Linked DNA regions of Homo sapiens: region 1 is linked to region 2. Evidence: fine-mapped expression QTL. Tissue or cell type: esophagus mucosa. Region 2 holds a variant in brackets; the other region holds the start of a gene. All regions are shown on one strand. Distances are from middle to middle. Region 1 holds the start of MCPH1-DT (MCPH1 divergent transcript). Region 2 has its middle 34 kb from the start of MCPH1-DT.

Evidence for each region. PIP is the estimated chance that this variant, and not a neighbour inherited with it, causes the effect.
Region 1: MCPH1-DT starts here. The variant in region 2 is fine-mapped to the expression of MCPH1-DT in esophagus mucosa (GTEx, PIP above 0.99). The same link has a PIP of 0.9 or more in tibial artery.

Annotation. Positions count from the first base shown.
Region 1 is chr8:6,394,652-6,409,859 of GRCh38, forward strand. It overlaps MCPH1-DT (MCPH1 divergent transcript), which reads right to left and starts at 11,897. Exons shown (of 2, transcript NR_040040.1): 1 at 11,055-11,897; 2 at 8,905-10,469. It overlaps MCPH1 (microcephalin 1), which reads left to right and starts at 11,976. Exons shown (of 14, transcript NM_024596.5): 1 at 11,976-12,038; 2 at 14,628-14,719. The coding sequence starts at 12,017. RefSeq lists silencers at 5,123-5,323, 11,718-11,797, 12,058-12,237.
Region 2 is chr8:6,363,975-6,380,138 of GRCh38, forward strand. No RefSeq gene overlaps it. Among named protein-coding and RNA genes, the nearest start is that of MCPH1-DT, 34 kb to the right of the region's middle. The variant T/G (reference allele first, on the strand shown) is at 9,420.

The sequences.
Region 1 (15,208 bases), 30 kb after region 2:
CGGAATTCCATTTGGGTTCTGCATTCTTGGCAGGAACCCCCTGGAAGTAGAAGTGATGTGTGCTTCTCAGTGCTTCATATCATGAGGCAGCTGGTGACTCTTTGTCCCTTTACTGGTGATGTTTGGTTCCTTTGAAAGGTGCTGTCTGCTATGTTTCCCCATTGTGAAGTGACTGAGGCTTTTCTTCATAATTGATATAAATAATTGATTATACATTCTGTCTTTAATCTGTTTCCCTCCTGGCAGTTTACTATAGGCAATCAGGAGAAGCCATGCTGCACTTTGCTTAAAGATTTCTTCTGTCAAATACCCTCTTTCATTACTTGTTAAGTTCCTCCTTTCACAAAACATTAGGACCCAACACAATTCAGCTGAGGTCTTTGCCACTTTATAACAAGGATGGCCTTTCCTCCTGTTTCTAATAACATGCCCCTCATTTCTGATACCTCATCAGAATTGCCTTTATTGACCATATTTCTACCAACATTCTGAGTATAACCACTTAAGTAATGTCTTAGAAGATTGAGGCTTTTTCTACAGTTCTCTTCTTCTGAGCCCTTATGAGAATCGCCTTTTTATTTTTTGAGACGGAGTCTCGCTCTGTCACCTAGGCTGGAGTGCTGTGGCGCGATCTCGGCTCACTGCAAGCTCCACCTCCTGGATTCATGTCATTCTCCTGTCTCAGTCTCCCGAGTAGCTGGGACTACAGGCACCTGCCACCACGCCTGGCTAATTTTTTTGTATTTTTAGTAGAGATGGGGTTTCACCGTGTTAGCCAGGATGGTTTCGATCTCCTGACCTTGTGATCTGCCCGCCTCGGCCTCCCAAAGTGCTGGGATAACAGGTGTGAGCCACTGCGCTCGGCCTTATGAGAATCGCCTTCTATGACCCAACAATAGCAATACAAGCTTTTTCTAATGTGCACCTCAGTGTTCTTCCTGCTTCTGCTAATTATACAATTCCAAAGCCACTTCTACATTTTTAGGTATTGTTTTACAGCAGCACCCCACTTCTTGCTATCAATTTCCATCTAAGTCCATACAAGCTGCTAAAACAAAACATGTTAGTTTGAGAAATTTATAAACAACAGACATTATTTCTCACAACTGTAGAGGCTAGGAAGTCCAACAGCAAAGCACCAGCAGATTCAGTGTCTGGTGAAGGCCTGTTCTTCACAGATGGTGCCTTCTATGTGACCTTATAAGGGAAAAGGGTCAAGTCTGTGTCCTCACATGGCAGAAGGGACAAGGACTACTTCTCTCAACTTCTTGTTAAGGGCAAAAATCACATTCATTAGGACAGAGCCCTCATTACTTAATCACTTCCCACCTCTTACTACTACTGAGACCCTACCTCTTAATACTATTGCACTGGTGGTTAGGTTTCAACATCTGAATTTGTGGGGGACACCAACATGCAGACTACAGCAGTTGGTCTAGTAAGAATCTGCCTACCCTTGCTGTCTCTTTTTTGTAATTTTCCATCCAATGACCTCTCACTCTGTTCAATGGCCAGAAATCCCCAGTTGTCTTTGCTGAATTCAGAGTTGAGCCCAATCTCTCTTCCCTATCTCAACAGTCTTTAATAAAGTCTTCCTTCAGTGGGACTCATGCTATCTTCATTGGGTCTGGTTGTTTGGAAAGTTAAGTCTCTTATCAGAGTAACGGTTTTTCTTTAAAATTTTAGAGTTATCATTTTGGCTATTGAATAACTTATAGTGACCTGGGACTCTATTTTCTGATATCCAGTGTTTTTAAACCTTTGATATTTGACAGACCTCTCAAGATCAAATTCTAAGTTAAAAAAAAAATTAAGTTGCCTAAAGTCCAAAAAGACATATTCAGCTTATTTAAAGTACTAAAATCATGCGGTAAACATTGTCAAATATAGTGTTTAATTTTCTTTGGGTTACATTTATATAAATGTGTTATTAGTATGTATTACAAAATTGTATAAGATTATAAGAGTCCTATAATTTTGATATGCCTCAGTATATGTTATCAGTAATAATTATAATTGTTATGTTAAATTATTGTGTGTCACAGAGGTAACAAATTTCCTTGTCAATTTTTTTTTTCTTTTTTTTTTTTTTGAGATAGAATCTTGCTCTGTCACCCAGGCTGGAGTGCAGTGGCGTGATCTCGGCTCACTGCAAGCTCCACCTCCTGAGTTCACACCATTTTCCTGCCTCAGCCTCCCAAGTAGCTGGGACTACAGGCACCTGCCACCATGCCCGACTAATTTTTTTGTATTTTTAGTACAGATGGGTTTTCACTGGGTTAGCCAGGATGGTCTTGATCTCCTGACCTCGTGACCCGCCTGCCTCAGTCTCCCAAAGTGCTGGGATTTCAGGCGTTAGCCACTGCACGCAGCCCAATTGTGTTTTTAACTGTGGCTGCCCTAAAATATTTTTGTCATCCAAGGCAATTGTCTCATTTTGATCCACTTTGGAAGGTGGTTTTATAATCAGCTATAAAACTTTGACAGGTACTCTTGAATGCAAGTTTCTGATAACTTTGGAGATGATGATGACACAAGTGTAAAGGGGAAAAACTTTCAGGACTCTCATGGAGAGCTGAAATGTTCATGGATATGAAGCAGAACAAAAGTTAACTGAATGGACTGAACTAATAAAAGACTGAAGTAACCTTTTTTTTTTTTTTTTTACTTTTTTGCTTAAAATGTTGCTGATCCTTTTTCTTATCCAGAACTAAGAAAACTTATCTTTTGAGCTATTTACAGCCTTTAACAATTGGTAAAATATACTCCTGTGAACAAAATTTGGAGCATATTTCTTTCTACCTGACTTCTCCAGAATTTGGGAACTATTTGTGAGTATTCTCAATTTATGGTAGTATAGACATTTGCATAAGCATGATAAGAATCTGTTTTCTTTTGTAACAGGACACGATTGTAGAAACTGGTTATTTTACCAAGGCTTTGACTGGAATGGCATGCTTTCTTTAAGGAATCAAAGTTGATTTACAGAGCCAATAAAAGCCTCTTGGGAAATCTGGCCTCATATTTTCTTTACACAGTCCCTGTATAAGGTTTCTGACCTGTGATAAGTAAAGAATGGCACTTTCTAACAGGCCGAGGAGCCCCAAGTTATCTTGGCACCTCAAGAGAAGAATAATTTACCTAACTCATAGGTATTTGACGGTATAAACCCATGGCAGGGCTCAGCTTTTAAAAAGTCTTATCTGAGATTCCTTATAGAACAGAGCTCCATCAAAGCCAATTTAAAAATCCTATATGAAAAATAATTATTTTTGCTGTGCTTTATGCAAATAACCAGGCCAAGTACAATAAAAGTTTATTTTGCAAACCAATCAGTCCTATCATTATTTGTTTTTAATAAAAATGATGATTGGGGGGCCGGGTGCGGTAGCTCACGCCTGTAATCCCAGCACTTTGGGAGGCCGAGGCAGGTGGAACACGATGTCAGCAGATCGAGACCATCCTGGCTAAAACGGTGAAACCCCATCTCTACTAAAAATACAAAAAATTAACCGGGCGTGGTGGCGGGCGCCTGTAGTCCCAGCTACTCGGGAGGCTGAGGCAGGAGAATGGTGTGAACCCGGGAGGCAGAGCTTGCAGTGAGCCGAGATTGCGCCACTGCACTCCAGCCTGGTCAACAGAGTGAGACTCTGTCTCAAAAAAAAAAAAAAAGAAAAGAAAAAAATGAGGATTGGAAAGAGAAAAATTATACTTAAAAAAGACTTATAGGCTGGGCGTGGTGGCCCATGCCCATAATCCCAGCACTTTGGGAGGCCACGGCAGTTGGATCACGAGGTCAAGAGATTGATACCATCCTGGCCAACATGGAGAACTCCCATCTCTACTAAAAATACAAAAATTAGCTGGGCGTGGTGGTGTGCATGCACCTGTAGTCCCAGCTACTTGGGAGACTGAGGCAGGAGAGTTGCTTAAACCCGCGAGGTGGAGGTTGCAGTGAGCCCAGATCTTGCCACTACACTTCAGCCTGGCAACAGAGTGACACTCCATCTAAAAAAAAACAAAAGTTACAGTACACCTTTTGTTAGCTGTTCTTGAATTTTTCCTTCAGTTTGGACTAAATCCTAAATTCTCTGTGGGCTAAAAGTCCCCAAACTAATGCTTTCAAATCTTTACTTTTGAAACTGGGAATTGCACTCCTCACCCTAGTATTCATTATCTACCTGATAGTCACTGTTCCCTCAAATGCAGTACTAAAACTATAGATGTTAATACTAATGCCTTTGCCATGCGAGCCTTGGAACCCCAGCCAGGCCTGCATGAGTACGCTCACACAGTTGCAAAGCAGTTCCATTTCTCTCACTTTGGGGTTAACGCCTACCCCTACTATGCCTCAGATCGGCAGGAAGAAGTTAGAGCAGCCTTCGCCCTTTTTCAATTTTCATTAGCCAACACCTTAAGATTAAGGTGTTATAAAATCCAAAAGGAGTCTGGGAGCGGTGGCTTATGGTTATAATCTCAACATTTTGGGAGGCCAAGGCAGGTGGATCACTTGAGGTCAGGAGTTCGAGACCAGCCTGGCCAACATGGTGAAACCCCATCTCTACTAAAAATACAACAAATTAGCCAGGCGTGGTGGTGCATGCCTGTAGTCCCAGGTACTCGGGAGGCTGAGGCAGGAGAATTGCTTGAACCCGGGAGGTGGAGGTTGCGGTAAGCCAAAATCGCACCAAAAACAAACAAACAAAAAAACCAAAGGGAGGGATTGAAACAGCCACTGCAAAATTGTAACTGGGACAGTGAAGGAGATCTGACCTAACCAACTCCATCTTGCTTCTAACCTCCAAGCTGTCCTTGTTCTTTCCCAGGCATAGGCTGAACTAACTTTGGGAGGAACTTAGCTTAGTGTTTATAGTTTACAACCAAGAGAATAACAGTCCTTTCCAAAAACAAACCTCCTTCTTGCCTAGGGACTAGACTGCCTTTGTAGGACTCATAAATTAGCCACAAGATTAGAAACTATGGTTTAGGAGTCATGCAGTTGGAGGCTAGAAGATTCTGACCCTCCCAAAACTGCTCCTAAGATCAGCGCTTGAGATACATTGCAGACCCTGCACTTGATGGATCAGCTGGCCCCACCCAGATGGATAATCGGGCTCATCTGATCTTGTGGCCACCACCCAGTAACTGACTCAGCGCAAGAAGACTGCTTTGACTCCCTGTGATTTCATTTCCAACCTGACCAATCAGCACTCCTGACTCACTGGCTGCCCCCGGCCCAGCAAGTTATCCTTCAAAACTCTGATCCCTGGATGCTCCTTGGGGAGACTGATTTGAGTAATAATAAATCTCCTGTCTTAAATTAAAAAAAAAAAAAGTATTTACTGTTTCAACAACTTTAAGAACATTTTTTTTTCATTAATACCACCTAGAAATCAGTGACTGTGTTTTATTAGAATAATTTCTGGTGCTTTATCATGTCTTTGATTATTTAAGACAACTAAATCTTCTCACCTTAAAAAAAAAGCTATTTTTTTCTTACAATCATAGAATCTCCTATGGCTATTTTTATTGTCAGTTTAATTAAATGGATAATTAAGTGTTGTTTCACAGTGACCTGTGATCCTATTTAATCAAGTGTTCAACGCTTTTGGCATTTTTGACAACTTCCCCAAATGAAATTCTAAATGAAATTTTTTTAACTTTGAACTGACTTTGAGATTTTCCAAAGGGTCCCTAGAAGATCTCAAAATATTTGTTCTCTCATTTTGTAAAAAGAGAGATGTTAAACTAATTAGGTTTATTCAATATGTTAAATTGCACGGGAGGCACTCACTGTCAAGAAAAGATACTTAACCTTCCTTAGGTGGTATTTGCATGGATAAATGTTATTATTTCAGAAACTGAATAAAGTTCCTAGAAATTTGTCAATGCCCTTGATAACCATAATATGTCCTGGTATAATATTATCAGTCATGATTACAGTTATGATTTTAAATGTATGCCACAAAAAAACTGATTTTCCTTGTTAACAGAATTAAAATAAACCTTCATCCGATCTTTACCATGGCCATTTTTGCCTTTTTGTCATTCGCAGTTATTATTTTACTCTGGTACTTTCCTGAAAGCTCTAGCGATCAGTTATTAGCCAGAATACTTCATCTTCAACAAAAAGGACTGTTTCTCTAAGATCCATGGAAAGGCCTGTAACAGTACTGTGGGGTACAGGCTTCTGATGACATTGCTTAAATAACTTTAATCTCATACCACTGCCCTGAGGAAGGATTTCCAGAACTCTAGTTGAAAAGCTGATGGGTTCATGACACTGCTAATCCAAGATCAAGCAAGGCCAGAATTAATCATATGGAACTGAGGTGACTGATAAACAATGGTTATGATTTTTTAAATGGCCTTTGTTTGAAACATTGCTGGTTCTTGAATGTTCTATGTCCTGAATATAAGGGAAGAAACATAGATTAGAACAAGGAAACAAAATAAAAACAATGATTAATGTTCAGAGCAGAATATAAACCCAGTTTTTTTAAGTCCAGAGGGCAAGCCAGTCATGAGGTTTTCTAGATGTGGGGTTCCATCTTTAGTGAGGATGGTAGTGGTATGTTGGAGTCATGGTTATTTTCTGGAGCAGAGCCTGGAAGATGCAAGTGTTCTGGAGAAATAATTGAAAACCCCAAACTGTTGTGATACATCCTTTGATTTCTCTTTTCTCTTAAGCTATCCACAAATGATAACAATTTAATAAACTTTCATAAGTAGAAATGAAAAATTTATCTTTTTCTCCCTGCTTCCTCTAAAATTTGTCAATTCTTATTGAATATTCCTATTCTCATGGCAATATAGTTGTTTGCATAAATTCAAGAAGAATCTGTTCTCCTTAAAAAAGGACATTATTTGGAAAAATTGATTATGTTACCAAGACTTTGACTAGAAGGTCATATTTGAGACTGATGTGCACAGAATTAGACGTGACCAGACATTTTTAAGAAACTAAGGTTGACTTGATGGAGCCAATGCTTACAAAGCTCTGCTGAAATAATTGACCTGGTGCCTTACCTGACTTACAGGGTTCCAGGCTTACAGGTGAGTAAGATGGGTTACTTACTCGCAGGCCCAGGGCCTTAAGATGTTTTGGAAACCTCAAGAAGAGCAACAGTTTTAGGGTCTGAATGGATCCCCACATTTCTCTATCTGAAACTACAGATAGTATAGGTGTAGTCTTTTTTTTTTTTTTTTTTTTTTTTTTTTGAGATGGAGTCTCACTCTGTCCCCCAGGCTGGAATGCAGTGGTGCAATCTCGGTTCACTGCAAACTCTGCCGCCCAGGTTCATGCCATTCTCCTGCCTCAGCCTCCCGAGTAGCTGGGACTACAGGCACCCGCCACTACGCCCGGCTAATTTTTTTGTATTTTTAGTAAAGACGGGGTTTCACCGGGTTAGGCAGGATGGTCTTGAACTCCTGACCTTGTGATCCACCCGCCTCAGCCTCCCAAAGTGCTGGGATTACAGGCGTGACCCACCACGCCTGGCTGTGTAGGTGTAGTCTTAAAACTCTAATCTGAGATTCCTTATAAAAGTTCCAGCCAAGCAAACCTAAAAAGGCTCCTGTGGTCAATTATCATTCTTGCTGGACTTATGTAAATGATCAGGCCAAATTTAATGAGACAAGACTTATTTTGTAAACAAGAGTAATCTTACTTTGTTTATCTTTGATCTCAGTGGTAGTAATTATACAGAGAAATTTTATGTTTCAATGGCAAACTATAACCCAGTTGTGTGAGTTATCAGACTCTAGTCTTGTTCATTGTCTTTGAGCAATTTTTTTACCTCTTTAAAAGCTGGATCCTGCCGGTCAGGCACGGTGGCTCACGCCCGTAATCCCAGCACTCTGGGAGGCCGAGGCCGGGGAATCACCTGAGGTCGGGAGTTCGAGACCAGCCATGACCAACATGGAGAAACCCCATCTCTACTACAAATACAAAATTAGCCCACAATCCCAGCTACTTGGGAGGCTGAGGCAGGAGAATCGCTTGAATCTGGGAGGTGGAGGTTGCAGTGAGCCGAGATTGCACCACTGCATTCCAGCCTGGGCAACAAGAGTGATACTCAGTCTCAAAAACAAACAAACAAAACAAAAAACAAAACAAAACCTGGATCCTGCCATCTTACATATTTTGTCAGTAATCAGTATTTCCAATTTTCCTCCCACTCTACTGACTTGACGTCACTGAGAACTAAAACTGATTCCTTCTCAAAGCCTTGCAAGCTGAAGCTGGATGGCTAGACAGAAACTTCAAAAGACTTATCACAACACGTGGGTCTTTCAAATATTTCCCCAGAACACCTGCATCTTCCAGACTGTGCTCTAGGAAATAACCATGATGGCAACACTACCTACCACTACCATCCTCACTAAAGATAGCTGGAGCCCAACATCTAGAAAATTTCATAACTGGCTTACCCTCTAGACTGGGTTTATCGTCTGCTCTGAACATTAATCATTGTTTTTGTTTCCTTGTTCTAATCTATGTTTTTCCCCCTTTTACAGATCTCTCATCTTACAATTTCTAACTCAAATCATCTCCCCACAGCAATCAACTTAGCTTCTTTTTTTTGTTAATGAAATTTCTAGGGAAGTTTCAGATGGAGAAATGTGTGGACCATTCAGGCCCTAAAAGTTGGTATAAAGATTATTTTACTGTGAAAATATTTGATCTAAGAAAGACGCATCAAGAAATTTTATTTGAACTTCCCTTATTTCACTAAAGCAGAGCCCCCAGAAAATACAGCTGCCATTGGCCTCCCTCTGAGGAAGTTTCCTGTAAATTCCACTACTGTAGAGACAGATTGCCCATTCTCATAAGCATCCAAAAGCCCAAAAGAACCTTCCACAACTTCCTACTGAAACTCCAAAATCTCCCAACACATTTTGTTAAGTGGATCTATAAACCTTTATTTCTATTTAGTGAGTTACTCTAAACCTTGTCTTTTCTCCTGTTAACCTGTTGTTATCAGTTAATTTGCAGGTCTTCAAACACAGGACCGACATTGAATGAGGAAAAGCTTTCCTTCCAACATAGACAATACGACTACCTGTAGAACATCATTTTGAATGTACAAAAAATTATTAAGCAGATTTAGCAAGTTTTCAGGACATGAGATCAATTGCAGATATCAACTATATTTCCATATATTAGCAACAATCAGAAACAAATGAAAAAATCACCATTTACGATATTATCAAAAAACACAAGACCTTGCACAGTGGCTCATGCCTGTAATCCCTACACTTTGGGAAGCTGAGGTGGGAGGATTGCTTGAGCCCAGGAGTTCAAGACCAGCCTGGGCAACATAGTGGGACTCCGCCTCTACAAAGAATTTAAAAAATGAATTGGGCATGGTCATGTGTACTTGTAGTCCCAGCTACTCAGGAGGTTGAGGTGGGAGGATAGCTTGATCCCAGGAGGGTCGAGGCTTCAAGATGAGCCATGATCACACCATTGCACTTCAGCCTGGGAGACAGAGTGAGATCCTGTCTCAAAAAAAAAAAAAAAAAAAAAAGAAGAAAAAAAGAAAAACAAAATAAAAAAACAAATACTTAGGTTAAAATCTAACAACAGTTATATTTTTTTTTTTTGAGATGGAGTCTCGCTCTGTTGCCCCAGGTGGAGTGCAGTGGCAAGATCTCTGCTCACTGCAAGCTCTGTCTCCCGGGTTCATGCCATTCTCCTGCCTCAGCCTTCCAAGTAGCTGGGGCTACAGGCGCATGCCACCACGCCCGGCTAATTTTTTGTATTTTTAGTAGAGATGGGGTTTCACTGTGTTAGCCAGGATGGTCTCAATCTCCTGACCTTGTGATCGGCCCGCCTTGGCCTCCCAAAGTGGCAGGCGTGAGCCACTGCGTCTGGCCAGAGAAATTTTAAAAGACCTAAATGTTAATGGGTCAGAAGATTCAATATGGTTAAAATGTCAATTCTCCCCAAATTCATCTGTAGAGTCAACACAATCTCAATCAAAATCCCAGCAGTATTTTTTTGTGCAAAATGAGAAGTCGACTCTAAGATTTAAAAGGAAATCTGAAGAATCTAGAAGATACAAAATAACCTTGAAAAATAAAGTTGTAGGACATAAACTATCTGATTTCATCACTTATTTATATAGCTACAATAATCAAAACAGCATGGTGCTGGCAGCAAAAAGACAAATAGCTCAATGGAACACAATAGGAAGCCTAAAATGAAACACATACATATGCAACACAGATTTTGATGTAAGCACAAAGGAAATGCAGTAGAGACAAAAATAACTTTTTAATAAATGATGCTGGAACATTTGGATATGTATACATGCAAAAAAATGAACTTTGGTCCCTATCCCATACCGTATACAAAAATTAATTAAAAGCAGATCTTATCCTTTGAGTCCAGTAGGTTGAGGCTGCAGTGAGCTGTGATTACACCACTGCATTCCAGCCTGGGCAACGGAGTGAGAAACTGCCTGGAGAAAAAAAAAAAAAAAAGTAGAACCTAGACCTGATATACAACCTAAAGCAGTAATATTTCTAGAAGAAATCCTAGGAGAAAATATTTGTGATCGTGGAGATGAAGAATCTATCAAATACTAAACTTTTTTTACCACCTTGACCAAAAGTAATTGGTTTATATACTTCATCATATCATTTAATTCAAAATCTACAGAGATCAATGTCACTTTCTCAGTAAAAGTACGTGAGTCTTCAATGATGCCCTGAACTCACACTCCCAAGTAAACCATAACACCATATTTCCAGAGTAGAGTTTATTAGAACAATAACTGGTGATAATGATAAATATTGATCAAAGACTGAGCCTAGGAAGTGGGTTTTTTGAGGCTGCATATACTCAAGGCAATTCTTCAGAACCACAGAGGGCTCATTGGATCCTATTAAAAGCTGAGAGTGAATGAATAAACAGATAAAACAGAGACCTGAGTAGACGGTAGTCGATATTCTTTTACATGTATTCTACCTCTAGATTCCATAGAAAGAACTAAAAGTACATGAATTTCACTACCAACATCTCCATCAGTTACCAGCTGTATCACCTTGGATCAGTCAGGTAACCTCCCGCGAATCTGGTTGCTTCCGGGGCAGGGGATCCGCGGGCTGCAGGTTTGAGCCTGGTTGCCGGCAGGGTGGAGCAGCTGGAGGGCCAAGCCTTTGAGCTCCAGGGGGGGTGGCCGGGACAGTGGGTAGTGCCAGCCGATCGGCGTCCTGGGGATTGCCTGAATGTGAGGTCTGGGTTCACCCCGCGGTGACCTGAGTCCTGGGATGCCCCTACAGGGATTTGCTGCCTCAGGGATCCGAAGTCTCTTTCATTCCCTTACTGGGGATTTGAGGTCTGGAGGTACTCCTGCGGGGGTCTGAGATCTCGGGGTCACCCTGTGGGGGTCTGAAGCCTCGGGGTCCCCGCGTGGGGTCTGAGGTATCAGAGTCCCCTCCGTTGGGTCTGAGGTCTCGGGGTCCCCCATCCCCGGGATCGGAGGTCCGGCTCCCCGGAGCAGGCAGGGCGGTGCGTCTGGCCCTGAACAGTAACGTGGCGCGCCAGCCCCAGGTGGTGTCGGGCTAGGGGGGCATAACGGTGCCGAAAGTCCGCACAAAGCCGTCCGCTGGGGTCCCGCCGCGTCCGCGAGGGAATGACTGTGCCCCCTCCCCTTCCTGATCCTCAGCTCAGGTGAGCCCAGATGAGGCGCCGGGTAGCTTCTAAGTCACTAATGGAAATAGAAGGCTAATTCAGGGGTTAGGGGCCGTCGTCCTCCTTACTCCCAGGAGAAGAGAAAAACCCACGGCCCAGCAGCCAGAGGCGCGGCGAGGCGGAATCGGGCCCCCTCCCCGGGGGCTCAGCTCCCTCCAGCCTCCCGCCTCACCTACAGAGAAATCCCGGAAACGCGGATTCAGCGGAGCGCGGTGACGGCGGCGCGCTCACCCCGCGCATGCCCAGTGCCCGCGCGCGCCGCCAGGCTCGCAAGCACCGCGTAGGCCAGCTGGCCGGATCCCGCCGTCTGTCATGGCGGCCCCCATCCTGAAAGGTGAGGTACTTCCTGCTGCCTGCTCCAGCAGCGGGAGTTTGAGGACCGGCACCCCTCGTCGCGGGCGCACTCGGGGGATCCCGTGGGAGGAGCCCCGCTCGCCCCTCCCTCGCTGCCTGTCTCCCCCAGACCCCCTGCCGCCTCCTTCCTCCCCCGCTGCCTGTCCCACCAAAACCCCCTGCTCCTGCTCTCTCCCCCGCTGCCTGTCCCCCCAAAACCCCCGGCTGCCTGCTTCGTCTCCCGTGCTCCCTGTCCCCCCAAACCCCCGACTGCCTGCTTCCTCCCCCGTACTGCTTGTGCCCCAACCCCCGTGCTGCTAGTTCCCCTCAATCCCCCGCTGCCTGCTCCCTCCCCCATGCTGCCTGTCCCCCAAATCCCGCCTTTCCCCCTACCTGCTTTCACCCCTGCTGCCTTAGTCCCTGGATCTGGGGCTCACTGGCAGGCAGAGTCCTGCCCTCCGGAAGTTGGTGTGGGGCCCTCCTGGGTCTGGTCCTGTTCGACCCCCTCTGAGGCCCACCTGGAGGAGCGGCAGTTGAGTTTCTATGCTAATTGTTCCAATAATAGGAGCCGCCTTTTACTGCGGAGTCTTTGTGTGCCAGGCGCTGTGCTTAGGCTAGTATGGTATTGTCTGATTTTTTTAACCGCTCTATCAACTCTCTTATATCATTTTACAGGCAGAAACTAAGGCATCGGACGTTTAGGTGACTCTCCCTGTGTGTGGCTAGTCAGTGCTGACAGGGCCTTAGACCGGAGCTGCTGTCCTAACCAGTATATGATACCGCACGCAGTCCCACCCTCTGTGCACCTGGAAGAGCCCAGGAGAGGGGAATAGCGGACACGTGTCTTGTAGAGTTTGACCGTGAGAAAAAAGGGGCCTGTATTGTGGGGCCTGGAGTCATAAAACCTCATAGCCAAAAGTAAAGACTAGAGGCTTTATACAAAGTCTGTAATCAGATGTGGCTATTTTTCTAATGTTAGTATTTTGTTAAATTAACCTGGTTTTCTTTTAGCGTTACCCCCAATCATTGACCAACGGCACACCTGGAAAATGCTTTTAAACATCAGGTTTTGAGAAGAGGATATCCACTAGAACAGGGGTCCACTCACTATGCCCCCCAGGCCATATCTAGCCTGCTGCCTGTTTTTGTAAGGGTCTACGAGCTAAGAATGTCTTTTACATTTTTAAGTGATTTTAAAAAAAGGTCAAATGAAAAATTATATCACATTCACATTTCCTTCTCCATAAATAAAGTTTTATTGGAACACAGGCCGGCCCGTTAATATATTACCTATGGTTATGTTTGTGCCACAACCGTGAAGTTGAGTAGTTGTGGCAAATACTGTATTGGCCACAAAGCCTGAAATATTTACCATCTGTCTCTTTACAGAAAATAGGTTTCTGCACTGGAAAAATTAAGCGTAAGAATTTGGGGAAAGCAACTAATTTTACAAATGTAAACTCTCATGTATTGTATGGGTACAGTTGTTCTTTGCTTAAAATTTTAATAAATTCCACTGAAGCTATTTTGAAAAGGCTTTCAGTAGAAATTTATTTATGAGACAGAGTCTTACTCTCTTGCCCAGGCTGGAGCGCAGTGATGTGATCACATAATAGCTCAAGCAATTCTGCTTCAGCCTCCTGAGTAACTTGGGACTACAGGCACTACCACGCCCGGTTATTTTTATTTTTATTTTTTAATTTATTATTTTTTTGTAGAGCCAGGGTCTCACTATGTTGCCTAGGCTGGTCTTGAATTCCTAGCCTCAAGCAATCCTCCCGCCTCCACCTTGCAAAATGCTGGGATTACAGGCATGAGCTACTTTGTTCAGCCAGTAGAAGAAACTTCATTTACTTTTCTTATTTTTGAGGCAAGGTCTTTCTCTGCTGCCCAGGCTGGAGTGCAATGGTGCGATCATAACTCAGCTTCTACCTCCTGGGCTCTAGGGATTCTCCCACCTCAGCTTCTCCACCCTACCCACCCCCATTTCCCACCCAGTAGCTGGGACTACAGCCACTCGCCACCATTCCTGGCTAATTAAAAACAAAATTTTTTTTAGAGACAGGGTTTCACTATGTTGCCCAGGCTGGTCTCAAACTTCTGTGCCCAAGTGATCCCACTGCCTTGGCCTTCCAGAGTGCTGCAATTACAGCATGAGCCACCACACCTGGCCAGTAGAGTAAATTTTTGTTTTACTTTTTTCTTTTTTTTTTTTTGAAACGGGTCTCGCCCTGTCACCCAGGCTGGAGTGCAATGGCGCAATCTCGGCTCACTGCAACCTCTGCCTCCCGGGTTCAAGTGATTCTCCTGCCTCAGCCTCCCAGTAGCTGGGATTACAGGTGCCCGCCACCATGCTCGGCTAATTTTTTGTATCTTTTAGTAGAGATGGTTTTTCACCATGTTGGCCCGGCTGGTCTCAAACCCCTGACTTCGTGGATCCACCCACTTCCGCCTCCCACAGTGCTGGGATTACAGGCGTGAGCCACTGTGCCGGCCTCGGTTTACTCTTAAATGTAAATAGAACAAAATCTATTGGGCAGGGGATGCTGGAATTTCAAATGTATGTTTCATGTTCATATCTTGTTTTCAGATGTAGTGGCCTATGTTGAAGTGTGGTCATCCAATGGAACAGAAAATTATTCAAAGACATTTACAACACAGCTTGTGGATATGGGGGCAAAGGTAAGACACTTATTTTGCTGTTGATTCATATGACAGTCTTCTGATTGGTAAAAAGTTACATTTGCATTTTCTTATTTTGGGAGTTTTTACTTAGAATCTGGACGAAGCAATGGGTAAGCGGTGGGAGAAAAAAGAGCCAAAGTGTGAAGAATTTAGAACAGTAGGACTTTCAGAACTCAATGCCTGTGGGCATTGAGTGAGGAGGAGGAACCTAGGATGAAATGCTGGATTCTTACACTGGTTACTTGAATGCATAGTGCTATTAAGCAAAGTGAGGAATACAGGAAAAGGAACAGGTTTCTAAGGGAAAAATTGTAAATTTGGGCATACTGAAAAATATCTGTTAGATATTTGGATATACAAGTCTGGAGCTTGGAGTGTTCAAGGCTAGAGATGATGATCTAGGGGGTCAGGACCATAGGGGTCATGTGAAGTCACAGGTGTGGACATCGTCCCATGTCAGGCATGGTTAGGATGAAGAGTGGTGAC
Region 2 (16,164 bases):
TGTCAGCACTTAACCTCACTCATGGCTGAGCTCCCACGGAGTCTACACTCCAACCACTCTTTTGCAAACACTGAAAGTTCCATTGTCTCATGGTTTATCCTCCTCACTGAAAGTCCCTGTTGTGTTGACTGGAAACTCCTACTCATCCCGAAAATTCCCTAAAGAGCTTCTTGTCTTTATATACAGACCCTCTGCCCTATGGAGGGGATGCCACTCATGATTTCCCAACACAATCTTCTTGTTTTCCTCCCTTGCAATAAAAGTGAGCTTCCTACCACATTACTTGCAAAATATTGAAGAAATAGGAATCCTAGTTAGACAAACTCAATCACTCTACATTTTTGATAGCTTGATCTATATATATATATTTACAATTTTTAAAAAATTACAAATAATTTCAGTTCCCTTTACAAAGGCTAAAAACTCAATCATTTAAGGTTAGGTGGGCTGGGCACAGTGGCTAACGTCTGTAATCCCAGCACTTTGGGAGGCTGAGGTGGGCAGATCACCTGAGGTCAGAGGTTTGAGACTAGCCTGGCCAACATGTCAAAACCAAATCTCCAATAAAAACACAAAAAAAATTAGCCAGGGTGGTGGCACACATCTGTAGCCCCAACTACTCTGGAGGATGAAGAAGGAGAATCACCTGGGCAACAGAGGGAAACTCCATCTCAAACAAACAAAAAGGTTAAATGATAAAGCCACCATGAATCTTTCTAGTTATACAAAGGTGAAAAATAGACAGGTATAAACTAAGTGGACCCACTCTGTTGAGTCCAAGAGGAAAAAATGGAATTCTCCTCTGTCCACGACTTTGAGTAAAGACAGAAAGATACTTTGCAATGTGTCTTCTTTACCTGCCAACTTCTGATATAGAGGCTGGAAAAAGGTTATTATTTAGTAGCCAGTGGCATGGCCAAGGCTCAGTCAAGCTAAACTAGAGACTTCACAAATACATACAGCAGCCATGTGTTGGCACACCCAAGACTCTTCTGCTTTGTGCGACTCTTTTTTTTTTTTTTTTTTTGAGACGGAATCTCACTCTATTGCCCAAGTGCGATGGCACAATCTCAGCTCACTGCAATCTCCCCCTCCCAGGTTCAAGTGATTCTCCTGCTTCAGCCTCCCAAGTAGCTGGGATTAGAGGCACGCAACACCATGTCCGGCTAATTTTCATATTTTTAGTACAGACGGGGTTTCACCATGTTGGCCAGGCTGCTCTTGAACTCCTGACCTCATGATCTGCCTGCCTCGGCCTCCCAAAGTGCTGGGATTACAGGCGTGAGCCACTACACCCGGCACCAGCAACTCTTATATCAGAGTCCAGCTGTCTGGGGAAGACAAGTGATCTCCCGAAAAATGCAGGAGAAATGAAGACACCAACATTTGTTAAGTGTGTTGTGAGCCAAACTGTTTCTATGTTCTCTGATTCTCAAAAAAGAAAAAAATAGTCCTTCAAGATGAATAACGTTACATCCATTTGAAAGATTTGGAGACATACAAAAGTTGAGTAACTTGGTCAAGACCAACACAATGCTGCCTCTAGTAAACAGCAGAGAAGAATGTGATGGAGTGGCTCTGGTCCTCCACCCGCTGCTCACCTGCGCTCAGTTTTCCACCATGAACGGAGGCGTCACGTGTTTGCCATTCTCCAAGTCATTAAGCTAAAAGAAACTTCCGGGAAGTAAATTAGTCCAGGAATATCATCAAGGCCACTGCAGAGAGATCGACACTTTACACATCGCCTAATATATGTGTTTATGTAAATGGCAATAAACAAGCCTGATTTACATCAGTGTCTTCAATATAGTTTCCCTTGACTTTGCATAATGAATTTTAACATTCGACTTTAGGTAGGTGAAATTTAGATACAAAAGTCAAAGCAGTGGGGCAACGTATGCATTCAGAAAAGGGAAATACTGGCCAGGTGCGGTGGCTCATGCCTGTAATCCCAGCACTTTGGGAGGCCAAGGTGGGCGGATCGCCTGAGCTCAGGCATTCGAGACCAGCCTGGCCAACATGGTGAAACTCCGTCTCTACTAAAAATACAAAAATTAGCTGGGCGTGCTGGCACATGCCTGTAATCCCAGCTACTTGGAAGGTTGAGACAGGAGAATTGCTTGAACCCGGGAGGCGGAGGTTGCAGTGAGCCGAGACTGCAGTGAGCCGAGACTGCACCACTGCACTCCAGCCTGGGCAAGAAGAGCAAAACTCTGTCACTCACACACACACTCACACACACACAAACACAGAAAGAAAAGTAAGAAAAGAAAAGGGAAACATCAATAAATAAGCCCTTGCCAGACTCCTGGAAGATTTGAAAAAAAAAGGGAGCAAGAGTTCTTTAGATCTCAGAGAGGGGCAAATGAGAAAACAAGTCAGAGATAATGTCCATGGTGAGGCAACTGCAGGTTGAACTACATAGTTTCCGAGCTTTCTTCCCGCATAAGAACCTATGATTCGATTCTATCAGAAGGGAAAATAGTGAGTGAGAAGGGGGACCTTTGTAGTGAGACTTCAGTGAGACCCCCAATATTAATATTGTATCTCTTTCCTGGGCTCAAAAAGCCAAGCTGACTCCCTGGAACCTTCACTGCGAATAATGAGCAATGTTGGCGCTTTGCCCAGTGAACGTTCATCTTCCAGAACCCAAGGCCACCTCCTTTTTCACTTTTCATCAAAGTGAAAGTCAATTAATGTGACTGCTCTCTCCAAAAGGAGAGAAAGCATTGGCTCAGTTAGCTTCAAATTCAGCCGCATTTATCACATATTTTAAAAAGCCAGACTCTTACAGATGTCCTCATGACAATTCTGGATGAATATTCCCTAATTTTTATTTGTAAATCATCTCTATTGAGGTATAATTATACACAAAAAACATCCATTTTAAGTGTCCAGTTTCTTGTGTTTTGACAAATGTATACACCTGTGTAACCATCAACACAATCATGACGCAGAATATTTTTATCAACCTGTGAATTTCCCTCCTTCCCCAGCCCCAGTCAGCCACTGATATGCTTTTTGTAGTTATAAATATTTTACCTTTCATTTTCTATAAACAAAACCACATGTATGATCATATTTGTATCCACTTTGTTAAACTCAATATAGTGTTTTCAAGGTTCATCCATGTTATTGCAAGTATCAGTAGCTCTTCTTTTTTTTTTTTTTTTCTTTTTTGGTGAGATGGAGTCTTGCTGTCACCAGACTGGAGTGCAGTGGCACGACCTCGGCTCACTACAACCTCTGCCTCCTGGGCTCAAGCGATTCTCCTGCCTCAGCCTCCTGAGTAGCTGGGACTACAGGCACGTACCACCACACCCAGCTAATTTTTGTATTTTTAGTAGAGACGGGATTTCGCCATGTTGGCCAGGGTGGTCTCGATCTCTTGACCTCATGATCCACCCGCCTCAGCCTCCCAAAGTGCTGGATTGCAGGCATGAGCCACCCCGACTGGCCATCAGTAGTTCATTTCTTTATGTTGCTGAATAGTACTCCATTGTATGGATAACTATGGTTTATTTATACCACACTCACCTGTTGATGGGTGTTTAGGTTGTTTGTAGTTTGGGACTCTTATGAATTAACATAAAATGAACATTCATGAACAAGTCTTAGTGTGAACACAGGTTTTGACATATCTGGGATAAATAGCCAGGAGTGAACTTTCTCATTTGATGGTATGTAAATGTTTAACTTTATAGTAAACTCTTTTCCAAAGTAGTTGTGCCACTTTACACTGCTACCAGAAGTGGGTAAGAGTTCTAATTGCGGCCGGGCGTGGTGGCTCACGCCTGTAATCCCAGCACTTTGGGAGGCCGAGGTGGGTGGATCACGAGGTCAGGAGATAGAGACCATCCTGGCTAACACAGTGAAACCCCATCTCTACTAAAAATACAAAAAATTAGCCGGGCATGGTGGCGGGTGCCTGTAGGCCCAGCTACTCGGGAGGCTGAGGCAGGAGAATGGCGTGAACCCGGGAGGCGGAGCTTGCAGTGAGCCGAGATCACGCCACTGCACTCCAGCCGGGGCAACAGAGCGAGACTCCGTCTCAAAAAAAAAAAAAAAAAAAAAGAGTTCTAATTGTTCTACATCCTCATCAGCATTCTGTATTTAGTTTCCCATTTCAGCCACTATGGCAAGCGTGAAGCAGTATACCTTTGTGGTCCTAGTTTGCATTTTTCCCTGATGACTGATGATGTGAAGGATTTTCACTGGCCATGTACTTATCTTCCATTCAAGTCTTTTGTCCAGTTTTCCCTATTGTGTTCTTTTTATTAAAGAATTTAAGTTATTTAAATATCTTTAGACTGGGCATGGTGGCTCACACCTGTAATCCTGGCACTTTGGGAGGCTGAGGCAGGAGGATTGCTTGAGCCCAGAAGTTTGAGACCAGCCTGAGCAGCACAGTAAGACTCTGTCTCCATAAAAAATATAAATAAAAATAGAAATTTAGCCAAGCATAATGGTGTGCACTTGTAGTCCCTGCTACTCCAGAGGCTGAGGCACGAGGATCACTTGAGCCTAGGAGTTTGAGGCTACAGTGAGCCATGATGACACTACTGCACTCGAGCTTGGGTGACAGAATGAAAGAGACCCTGTCTCAAAAAAAAAAAAAAAAAAAAAGTTATACAAGTCCTTTGTCTAATACAGGTATGGTGAATATCCTCTCTCAGTCTGTGGCTTGCCTTTTTCTTTTCTTTTCTTTTTTTTTAGATGGAGTCTCACACTGTCGCCTGGGCTGGAGTGCAGTGGTGCAATGTTGACTCACTGCAACCTCTGCCTCCGAGGTTCAAGCAATTCTCCTGCCTCAGCCTCCCGAGTAGCTGGGATTACAGAGGCCTGCCACCACGTCCAGCTAATTTTTTGTATTTTTATTAGAGACAGGGTTTCATCATGTTTGCCAGGCTGGTCTCGAACTCCTGACCTCGTGATCCGCCTACCTCAGCCTCCCAAAGTGCTGGGATTACAGGTGTGAGCCACAGTGCCCAGCAGCCTTTTCCTTTTTTCCTTCGTTTTCTTTCTTTCTTTTTTTTTTCTTTTGAGACGGAGTCTCGTTCTGTCACCCAGGCTAGAATGCAGTGGCGTGATCTCGGCTCACTGCAACCTCCGTCCCCTGGGTTCAAGCAATTCTCCAGCTCCAGCCTCCCAAGTAGCTGAGATTACAGGTACCTGCAGTGGGGGAGAGCATGTTTTCCAGACCCTGTTTCTAAGGAAAAATAATTAAAAAAATTAAAGAGGTAGACTGAGGAAAAGGAGAGCCCTGTGCCCTTAAGGAGCATATATTTGGGTCAAAGACAGGAAATAAACACACAATGGATAGATGAACAGAGAGCTATAGAAAAAAAAAACAGATGGGAAAAATTTCAAGCACCAACAAATTCTCTGAAAAAGATAAAACAATGTAATATGGTAGAAAAGGACTTAAAAAAAAAGGGTTATCACCTCTTTATGAAAATGTGACCTAACTGAAAAGATCAAAATAGTGAGTACGAACCAAAGGATAAGGAGAACAATAGAAAGTGTGAAGGTCCTGAGGCAGAACTGAGCATGGTACATTTAGGATGCAGAAAGGAGGGGAGAAAATATGGTAAACAAGAGAAACACAGAGGCGATGTTGGAGAGGGTGCTGGCCCACCTCACAGCCCATGGAGAGGCCTTTAACTTTATTCTGAGAATAATGAGAAGCCACTGAAGGATGCAAGCCACGCAGACATGATCTGTTTTAGACTTTGGCCAGATCCCTTCTGGCTGCTCTGTGGGTACGAACCATGCTAAGGAGGCCACCTAGGCACTGCTGGGGCCTGCAGGTAAGGGAGTGATGGTGGAGGTCCGTGTTGTGGCAGTGGAGACACTGAGGAGTGTTCAGAGCCAATATGTGTTTACAAGGTAGAGCTATCAAGATGTACTGCCATGGCCAGGCATGGTGGCTCACGCCTGTAATCCCGGCTGCTTGGGAGGCGAAGGTGCGGAAGAATCACTTTAACCCGAGAAGCGGCGGTTGCAGTGAGCCGAGATGGCACCACTGCACTCCAGCCTGGGTGACAGAGCAAGACCCCATCTCAAAAAAATAAAAAATAAAATAAAATAAAAAATAACATAACAATATGTAAGAAAACAGAAACCAGGAAGGGGCAAGGAAGCAATCATGATGAATGAGAGGTCCAGCATCTCATTGTCAGGATATTGTGATCTGGTGAGTTTCAGTTCTTTGATCCTTTCTTGAGAGCCATGAAGGTCATTTCCTGAGGAAGGAACTCAGATAAAACCAATGTAAGGTTTAAGCTCTAAGACGAGAAAAGTGAATTTCTATGTTCATTCAAAAAATTTTTGGGCCGGGCGCTGTGACTCACGCCTGTAATCCCAGCACTCTGACAGGCCAAGGCGGGCGGATCACGAGGTCAAGAGATAAAGACCATCCTGGCCAACATGGTGAAACTGCGTCTCTACTAAAAATACAAAAATATTAGCCGGGCGTGGTGGCTGGCGCCTGTAGTCCTAGCTACTCAGGAGACTGAGGTAGGAGAATAACTTGAACCCAGGAGGGGAGCCGGAGGTTGCAGTAAGCCGAGATTGCCCCGCTACACTCCAACCTGGCCACACCCCAGCCTGGCGACAGAGCGAGACTCCGTCTCAAAAAAAAAAGAAAAGAAAAGAAAAGAAAAAAAAATATCTATGTGACTATTGGGTTGGTTTCATAAGCAGGTTGATATGTCAGTAAGAAGTCCTGCATAGAGATTTTCAGCTAGTGATGCTAACTGAGACTGTGGATGTGGAAGTAGAAGAGGTCACTGAGGATGAGAGTGTTTAGAGAGGATGTGAGAATCTGGGGAAGAGAAACAAGATTTTTACATAAGAAAACTATGGATATGTTATGGAGTAAAGTTCACAACTTTTTAGCATAAATTCTGACTTTGCATGATGTCCACTTACTATAATGTCTAATTGTTCCTGGAGGGAAGGCCTTGAGAGTAAGTTGTCCAGGTCCTTGGCGTTTAGAACAAAGAATTGGACAAAACAGCACAAACAAAGCAAAAAAGGAACGAAGCACAAAAACGAAGCAGCAAGAGCAGGGATTGATTGATTGATTGATTTTTTTGACACAGAGTCTCACTCTGTCGCCAGGCTGGAGGGCAGTGGCATGATCTCGGCTCACTGCAATCTCCACCTCCCAGGCTCAAGCGATTCTCCTGCCTCAGCCTCCTGAGTAGCTGGGACTACAGGCACGCCACCACACCCAGCTAATTTTTGTATTTTTAGTAGAGATGGGTTTTCACCATATTGACCAGGATGGTCTCATCTCCTGACCTCATAATTTGCCGGCCTCAGCTTCCCAAAGTGCTGGAATTACAGGGGTAAGACACCACGCCCGGCCAGCAGGGATTTATGAAAGTGAGAAAGCACTCTGCAGGGTGGGAGTGGGCCCAAGCAAGCGGCTCAAGGGCCCCATTACAAAGTTTTCTCGCTTTTAAGTACTCCTTTTGAGGTCCCTGTCGGTTACCCCTTATCTGGATGAAAATTTGGTCTGTGACTAATTAAACGGTAGGGTGAACTGGCCCCCTATGCAGATGAAGGGATGGCTGGTGCTTGACCCACTTTTTGTCTCAGAAATATAACTAACTACCTACTTTTTAAAAAAAAATTAAAAGTCATTCTTCGCATCATTTAAAGTGTTGGTGATGATGCATTTAAGAGAATCCACAATCCACCTAAAGGCTATTATTGCTGGCCTCTTAAACCTGTTTTGCAATCATGAAGTGCTGGTATACTTTTGGTCCTGCCTCAAGAATGTTGGTAAATACACTTGCCTTGCCACCTTTCCCACCTTCTTTCAGAACCATTTGTTTTTAGGAATTACAAAAACACAGAGAGGCCGGGCACAGTAGCTCACGCCTGCAATCATAGAACTTTAGGAAGCCAAGGTAGATGAATTGCTTGAGCCCAGGAATTTGAGAGCAGCCTGGGCAACATGGCAAAACCCCTGTCTCAGCAAAACACGGAAAAAAAAAATCAGCTACGCATGGTGGTGTGTGCCTATAGTCCCAGCAACTCGGGAGGCTGAGGTGGGAGGATTGCTTGAGCCCGGGAGGTTGAAGCTGCAGTGAGCTGTGACTGCAGGCTCAACTTCCAAGCTGAGACCAAGCACTCCTTGTTTTTTCATTTTTTAAGCATTTATTTATTTGAAGACAGGGTGTCATCCAAGATAACAGAGACCCTGTCTTCAAATAAATAAATATTTTAAAAATGAAAAAACAAGGAGTGCTTAGTCTCAGATTTTTTTCCAGCAAATGTTGCCAATACTCTACCATGCTTAGAGAATGACAGCCACATCATGACTGCCACCTGGCCCTCAGAGGTGGTAAGACAGCAGCGATAGTAGAATCTATCCCAAATTCAGTGATTTAAAACGTGAAACACATGTGCATCACAGCACGATGCAATCCAGTACTGAAGGTAGAGGGAAGGGGAAAAAACTAGGAAGAGTAGTACTGCCACAGAGGCCACGATACTGCTGCAATATGAAGTACTGCCACAGATGTCACAGTATTGCTGCAATATAAAGTACCGCCACAATAAGAAGTATTGCCACAGAGGCCACGGTACTGCTGCAATAACAAGTACCACCACAATATGAAGTATTGCCACAGAGGCCACAGTACTGCCACAATATAAAATACTGCCACAATATGAAGTATTGCCACAGAGGCCACGGTACTGCCGCAATATAAAATACTGCCACAATATGAAGTATTGCCACAGAGGCCACGGTACTGCTGCAATAAAAAGTACTGCCGCAATAAAAAGTACTGCCGCAGAGTCCACAGTACTGCTACAATGTGAAGTATTGCCACAGAGGCCATGCTACTGCCGCAATGTGAAGTACTGCTACAGAGGACACAGTACTGCCACAATATGAAGTACTGCCAAAGAGGCCACGGTACTTCCGCAATATGAAGTACTGCCACAATATGAAGTACTGCCACAGAAGCCACAGTCCTGCCACAATATGAAGTACTGCCACAGAGGCCATGGTACTGCTGCAATATGAAGTACTGCCACAATATGAAGTATTGCCACAGAAGCCACAATTCTGCCACAATATGAAGTACTGCCGCAGAGGCCACAGTACTGCTGCAATATGAAGTACTGCCACAGAGGCCACGGTACTGCCACAATATGAAGTACTGCCACAGAGGCCATGGTACTGCCGCAATATGAAGTACTGCCACAATATGAAGTACTGCCACAGAGGCCATGGTACTGCCACAATATGAAGTACTGCCACAATATGAAGTATTGCCACAGAAGCCACGGTTCTGCTGCAATATGAAGTACTGCCGCAGAGGCCACAGTACTGCTGCAATATGAAGTACTGCCACAGAGGCCACGGTACTGCCACAATATGAAGTACTGCTGCA[T/G]AGGCCACTGTACTGCTGCAATATGAAGTACTGCCACAATATGAAGTATTTTCACAGAAGCCACAGTTCTGCTGCAATATGAAGTACTGCCACAATATGAAGTATTGCCACAGAGGCCATGGTACTGCTGCAATATGAAGTACTGCCACAATATGAAGTATTGCCACAGAAGCCACAGTTCTGCTGCAATATGAAGTACTGCTGCAAAGGCCACAGTACTGCCACAATGTGAAGTCCTGCCACAGAGGCCACGGTACTGCCACAACGTGAAGTACTACCACAGAGGCCATGGTACTGCCACAATATGAAGTCCTGCCACAGAGGCCATGGTACTGCCACAATGTGAAGTCCTGCCACAGAGGCCATGGTACTGCCACAACGTGAAGTACTGCCACAGAGGCCACAGTACTGCCACACGTGAAGTCCTGCCACAGAGGCCACGGTACTGCCACAATGTGAAGTACTGCCACAGAGGCCACGGTACTGCCACAATGCGAAGTCCTGCCACAGAGGCCACAGTACTGCCACAACGTGAAGTACTGCCACAGAGGCCACGGTACTGCCACACGTGAAGTCCTGCCACAGAGGCCATGGTACTGCCACAATGTGAAGTCCTGCCACAGAGGCCACGGTACTGCCACAATGTGAAATCCTGCCACAGAGGCCACGGTACTGCCACAATGTGAAGTCCTGCCACAGAGGCCACTGTACTGCCACTATGTTAAGTACTGCCGCAGAGGCCACAGTACTGCTGCAATGGGAAGTACTGTCACAGAGCCCGCAGTACTGCTGCAATGTGAAGGAGTAACAGGGTTAAAAACATACTGCATTGATGTCCCTTTCAGTATTCTAGATTTTCAGTATCACCAAGGCTAGCCAGTCTTGCTGCTTTCAAAGCTATGTTGAAAGGCTATAAGTAGTTTTACTGTCATTTTGATGATCTGCATTTTCTAACTCTCTTAAATTGAATCTAGATTATGTGTGTAATATTTTTAAAGCCATAACGTGTGATTCGATGTTTTCTTGTTTCATCTAGGTTAATTTTACTATTTCTTGTACATGTCCTAACATTGATATCCAGGGAGGAGCATCTACGTACAGAATAACTACATTGGAGAAGTTGAAATAAGTGTTCGTGAGATGATTTTGCACAATGATCACCCACACTGTAACATGCACACTGCTGGCAAGCAACAGTTGGCCAGCAAGGGCTTCACAGGTAAAAGGTGCTAGTTACGTGGCTGTTTCCAGGAGAACTCTTGATGTTTTAAGGGCTTTGCAGTCCTTCCCATTTGAAAGCGGAGCAGCACCATCTAGTTGTGAAAACCAAGAGTGCAGGCTCCCTTTTTCCTTCTACTGTGGGTCTTGGCAACACTTCCCAGATTAAACAATTGGTTCTCAGACCTGCTTCCATTTTTATTAATAAGACAATTACATAGTCAAGTTTCTGTGGCTGTTAGTGATACATGTCTTATAAACAAACGCAAAAATGTCAAAACCTCAAAATTCTCTGTAAGTAGTGGCTGTACATCTCTAGTATCGCCTGTAAACAGTCATAACTTTTCAAACAACTTGTATAAGTTTTGGATTATGTTGGCAATATCAGACACATTTTGCCTAAAGATAGATGTGTTTTAATGATGAAAGTATTGTTTCTGTTCTAGAATGTCATCATCACAGAGTGTGAATCCTAGTCTATAATTCACTTGTCCTTATTAAATTATTTTACAAATTACATACTATGCAAACTCTATCACTAGACTTATTGTCTTCTTATTACCTGTCTCTCTCTCTTTTTTTTTTTTTTTTTTTTTTGAGATGGAGTTTCACTCTTGTTGCACAGGCTGGAGTGCAATGGCGTGATCCCGGCTCACTGCGACCTCCGCCTCCCAGGTTCAAGCGATTCTCCTGCCTCAGCCTCTCCAGTAGCTGGGAGTACAGGCGCCTGCCACCACGCCCAGCTAATTTTTTGTATATTTAGTAGAGACAGGGTTTCACCATGTTGGCCAGGCTGGTCTTGAACTCCTGACCTCAGGTGACCCACCCGCCTCGGCCTTCCAAACTTCTGGGATTACAGGCATGAGCTACCGCGTCTGGCCCTTATTACGTGTCTCTTAATTAATTTTTGGAAATTCTTAACTTGGTAGGCTTTATGAAGAAAATACATAAATTCTTTAAGATAGACATTTTCTGTCTATCTTATTTTCTGGTAGGTTAACAAGTGACATTTCTGAGTAATTTGTAAAATGTGACAGATAACCAATTCTATACGGCAGGGGTCCCCAAGCACAGACTGGTACCAGTTTGTGGCCTGTTAGGAACCGGGCCGCACAGCAGGAGGTGAGCTACGAGTGATCCAGCATTACTGCCTGAGCTCTGCCTCTCATTAGATCAGCAGCAGCATTACATTCTCACCCCTATTGTGAACTGCACATGTGCAGGAGAGAATCTAGCTAATGCCTGATGATCTGAAGTGGAACAGTTTCATCCTGAAACTATCCCCCTAGTCCCTGTCCATGGAAACGTTGTCTTCCACAAAACCGGTCCCTTGGTGCCAAAAAGGCTGGGTACCACTGCTATATGGGATATTAAGCTACTATAATATGTGAAGTTATACCACTTGCCAAGAATACTGGCTTTATTTTGATATTCATCTTCCCGATTCTTTTGGATTCTCAGCCACTATTTTGTAGTCTTTTATTCTTTTTCTATCTTGTTTCTGCAATATATAGCAGCAACAGTATAATGAGTTTCATCTAGAATTCTATTTGTTCAGAGTATCTCTTCACTGTTATTTCCCTATTTCCAGAGTATATTGGCAGGCAAGTGATATTCATGGACATGTCTTATGCCAGCAGGGTGCCACACTGCTCTGTTCACTTGCCACATTGAACCATAATTACTTTTTCCTCTATATTTCCACCTGGATTATGATCTGAAAGTTGTCAGACTGAGGATAGTGCTAAGGAAAGGTATTCAAACCTGGGATACAAAGCAAAAAGGTGAGTGGCACATCCTTTCCTTGTCATGTGGGAAAGAAGGCTTAAGGCAGAATTGTAAGCTGCCTGGCTGAGTGTTGAAAGCATGCCCCCAACATGCAATCACAGTCCCTTGACAAAGACTATGAGTATTTAATAAAAAATCTGGCCTGGCTGGGCGCGGTGGCTCATGCCTGTAATCCCAGCACTTTGGGAGGCTGAGGTGGGTGGATCACCTGAGATCAGAAGTTCAAGACCAGCATGACCAACATGGCAAAACCCCATCTCTACTAAAAATACAAAAATTAGCCAGCTGTGGTGGCCTGTGCCTGTAATCCCAACTACTCAGTAGGCTGAGGCAGGAGAATTACTTGAACCTGGGAGGTGGAGGCTGCGGTGAGCTGAGATCACACCATTGCATTCCAGCCTGGGCCACAGAGCGAGACTCCATCGCAAAAAAGAAAAGAAAATAAAAGAAAATATCTGTTTAATCTTCAGCTGACCACTAAGCAATATAGTTGTGACTTCAGTGGCAAAAGAAAAAAAATACAAGCTTTATGGATTTAGTTCAGAAAAGTCACTAAACAAACAACTGCAATAAGCAGTAACAACCGCAAACACTGGGGAGTGCCAGAAGGAGAGAAAAGAAAAGACAGAGAGAATATTTGAAGAAATAACAGCTGGAAACTTACCAAATTTGGTAAGCTCATTAATATCCACATCCAATAAGCTCAACAAATTCCAAGTCATATAAACTCAAACACATACATGCCTAAACATGTCATAACCAAACTGTCAAATGTCAAAATAAAGGCAGAATCTTGAAAACAGCAAGAAATGACTTATCACATACAATGAACGTCAATGAGATCAACACCTGATTTCTCATGTGGAACCTTGGAGGCCAGAAGGCAGTGGGATGATGTACTCAAAACCCTGAAAGAAAAAAAAAACTGTTAACCAAAAATTCTATACCTGGTAAAACTATTCTTCAAAAATGAAGATGAAATTATCAATACATCTGCTGATAGTTCAATTCACATTTAACACTCTGTAAAACTTTAGGGAAAACTTTTTTTTTTTTTTTTGAGACACAGTTTTGCTCTTGTTGCCCAGGCTAGAGTGCAATGGCACAATTTCGGCTCATTGCAACCTCCACCTCCCAGGTACAAGCAATTTTCCTGTCTCAGCCTCTCAAGCAGCTCCAATTACAGGCATGCGCCACCATGCCCAGCTGATATTTTTGTATTTAGTAGACATGGGGTTTCACCATGTTAGTCAGGCTGCTCACAAACTCCTGACCTCAGGTGATCCACCTACCTCGGCCTCCCAAAGTGCTGGGATTACAGGCATGGGCCACCACGCCCAGCCAGGAAAACTTCTATAAAACATAAAAATGTTCCAAAATAAGCTGACTATACTTGCTGAATTTTGATATTAAACAAAATATTTTGCCATCTTGGTAACCTAACATAGATGTTTCCATCAAATATTATGTGATGCACATCAAAGTTACTTCAAGTCATAGAGGAAGAAATTTAAAAGTTTACCCACCAATGACTTCCATAAAAGCTCCAAGTAGAGAAAAGAATTATGACAATGTGCTAATCTGGTCCAAGCATTTTTGCCTACAATCAGAACCAGAATTTTTGTTTTGTCCATTATGTTTCAGCACTATAATTTCACTAGTGATTCATTTGTATATTTATCTACTGACACAATTCTAGAAATTCTTTGTGAAATACATATACATTCTGTTAAAATTTTTATGTTTCCTGTAAAACACACAGAAGTGCATGCACACACATTGTTGTTTTTTATCAGTTTTACCTAACTGAAAAGCAAGTGAGTTGACAGTAACTTGATTTAATCATAATGTAGCTGATATGCTTTTTAAAAAATGCTTCAGCATCTATTGATTTAGTTAAGTCTATTTTCACAGAATAATAAAAATTTTTTTGTTTGTTTGTTTTGGAGACAGAGTCTTGCTGTTGCCAGGCTGGAGTGCAGTGGCGTGATCTCAGCTCATTGCAACCTCCACCTCCTGGGTTCAAGTGATTCTCCTGCCTCAGCCTCCCAAGTAGCTGGAACTACAGTGCACCACCATGCCTGGCTAATTTTTGTATTTTATTTTATTTTTATTTATTTATTTATTTTTGAGACAGAATCTTGCTCTGTCGCCCAGGCTGGAGTGCAGTGGCATGATCTTAGCTCACTGCAAGCTCCACCTCCTGGGTTCACACCTCCAGAGTCCCAGCCTCCAGAGTAGCTGGGACTAAAGGTGCCTGCCATCACAAAATACAAAAAATTGACTAATTTTTTGTATTTTTAATACAGACGGGGTTTCACCGTGTTAGTCAGGATGGTCTCGATCTCCTGACCTCGTGATCTGCCCGCCTCGGCCTCCCAGAGTGCTGGGATTACAGGCGTGAGCCACCGTGCCTGGCCTAATTTTTGTATTTTTAGTAGAGATGGTGTTTCACCATGTTGGTCAGGCTGGTCTCGAACTCCTGACTTCATGATCCACCTGTCTCGGCCTCCCAAAGTGCTGGAATTACAGGCATGAGCTACTGTGCCTGGCCCAGAATAGTAAATTTAAATGCAAAAGCTTAACTAAATTTTAACAACCGTTACCATTTATTTAGAATCTTTGAGCTAAATCTGTGGGACTCATTATTTCTAATTCTCCCATCAACGCAGCAGATGGGTATCATTATTATTCTCAAGTTACAGATGAAGAATACAAAGATTAAGTATGTTGCTGAAGCTCATGCTTAGTAAATTGTAGGGCTAAGGTCTGAAGATTGATCCCCATGTGAAGAAGAGTCATTCTCACCACACTGCGAAAACTTAAGGTTCTCACCCTGAAATCTGCTGCCTACATTTTTCAATCCCTTGAAACTGCTTTCAATAAAGCCCCCTGTGGCCTCCTTGTCACTAAGTTTAAGATGAACAATTTTTTTTTCTTTAACTTTTAAGTTCAGGGGTACAAGTGCAGGTTTGCCACATAGGTAAGCTTGTATCATGGGGGTTTGTTGTACAGACGATTTCATCAATCAGGTATTAACTTTAGTACCCATTAGTTGTTTTTCCTCATCTTCCCCCTCCTTCCACCCTTCACTCTCTGAAACGCCCCAGTATGTATTGTTCCCCTCTATGTGAGAGCTAAATGATGAACATTTTTCATCCTTATCTTCGTTGACCCTTCCACATCTGAAATTGTGACCTCCTCCCTCTCTGTGAAACAGAACCTTCTCTTGCCTTCCTCACCACCACCCTTCTGGTTTGCTTCCTACCTTCCTGGCTACTCCCTCTTACAATCCCTTGCCTATTATACCTCCTCCACCTCACTCATAAAGTTTGGAGCCCTTCAGAGCTCTGTTCTAAGTGGCTTTGCCTTTTCTTTTCTCATCATTCAATAATGCAACAAAATTTAGTGAACCTCTGTTATTCACAAGCACTTACGAGGCTTGGGTACCCTGCAGTGAGCAAGAGAGGTGAACATTGAGTAGATAATGACATGAGGAAGAGCCAAGACGGGAGGTTGGAGAATCCATGAGGAAAAAGTCATGCAGTGCCTCACGGGCTGCAGTAAGGATCTGCATATTCCTTGAGGATAGCATAGTCATTGAGGGACGTTAAACAGAGGAGTGATGTGATCTCATTTGTGTTTGTATAAGTCCACTCTGGCTACAGCAGTAAGAATAGATTGGGGTTGGGAGTGGGGACAATCACCATCATTCTTGGTCAGGCTTACTTTGAGACAG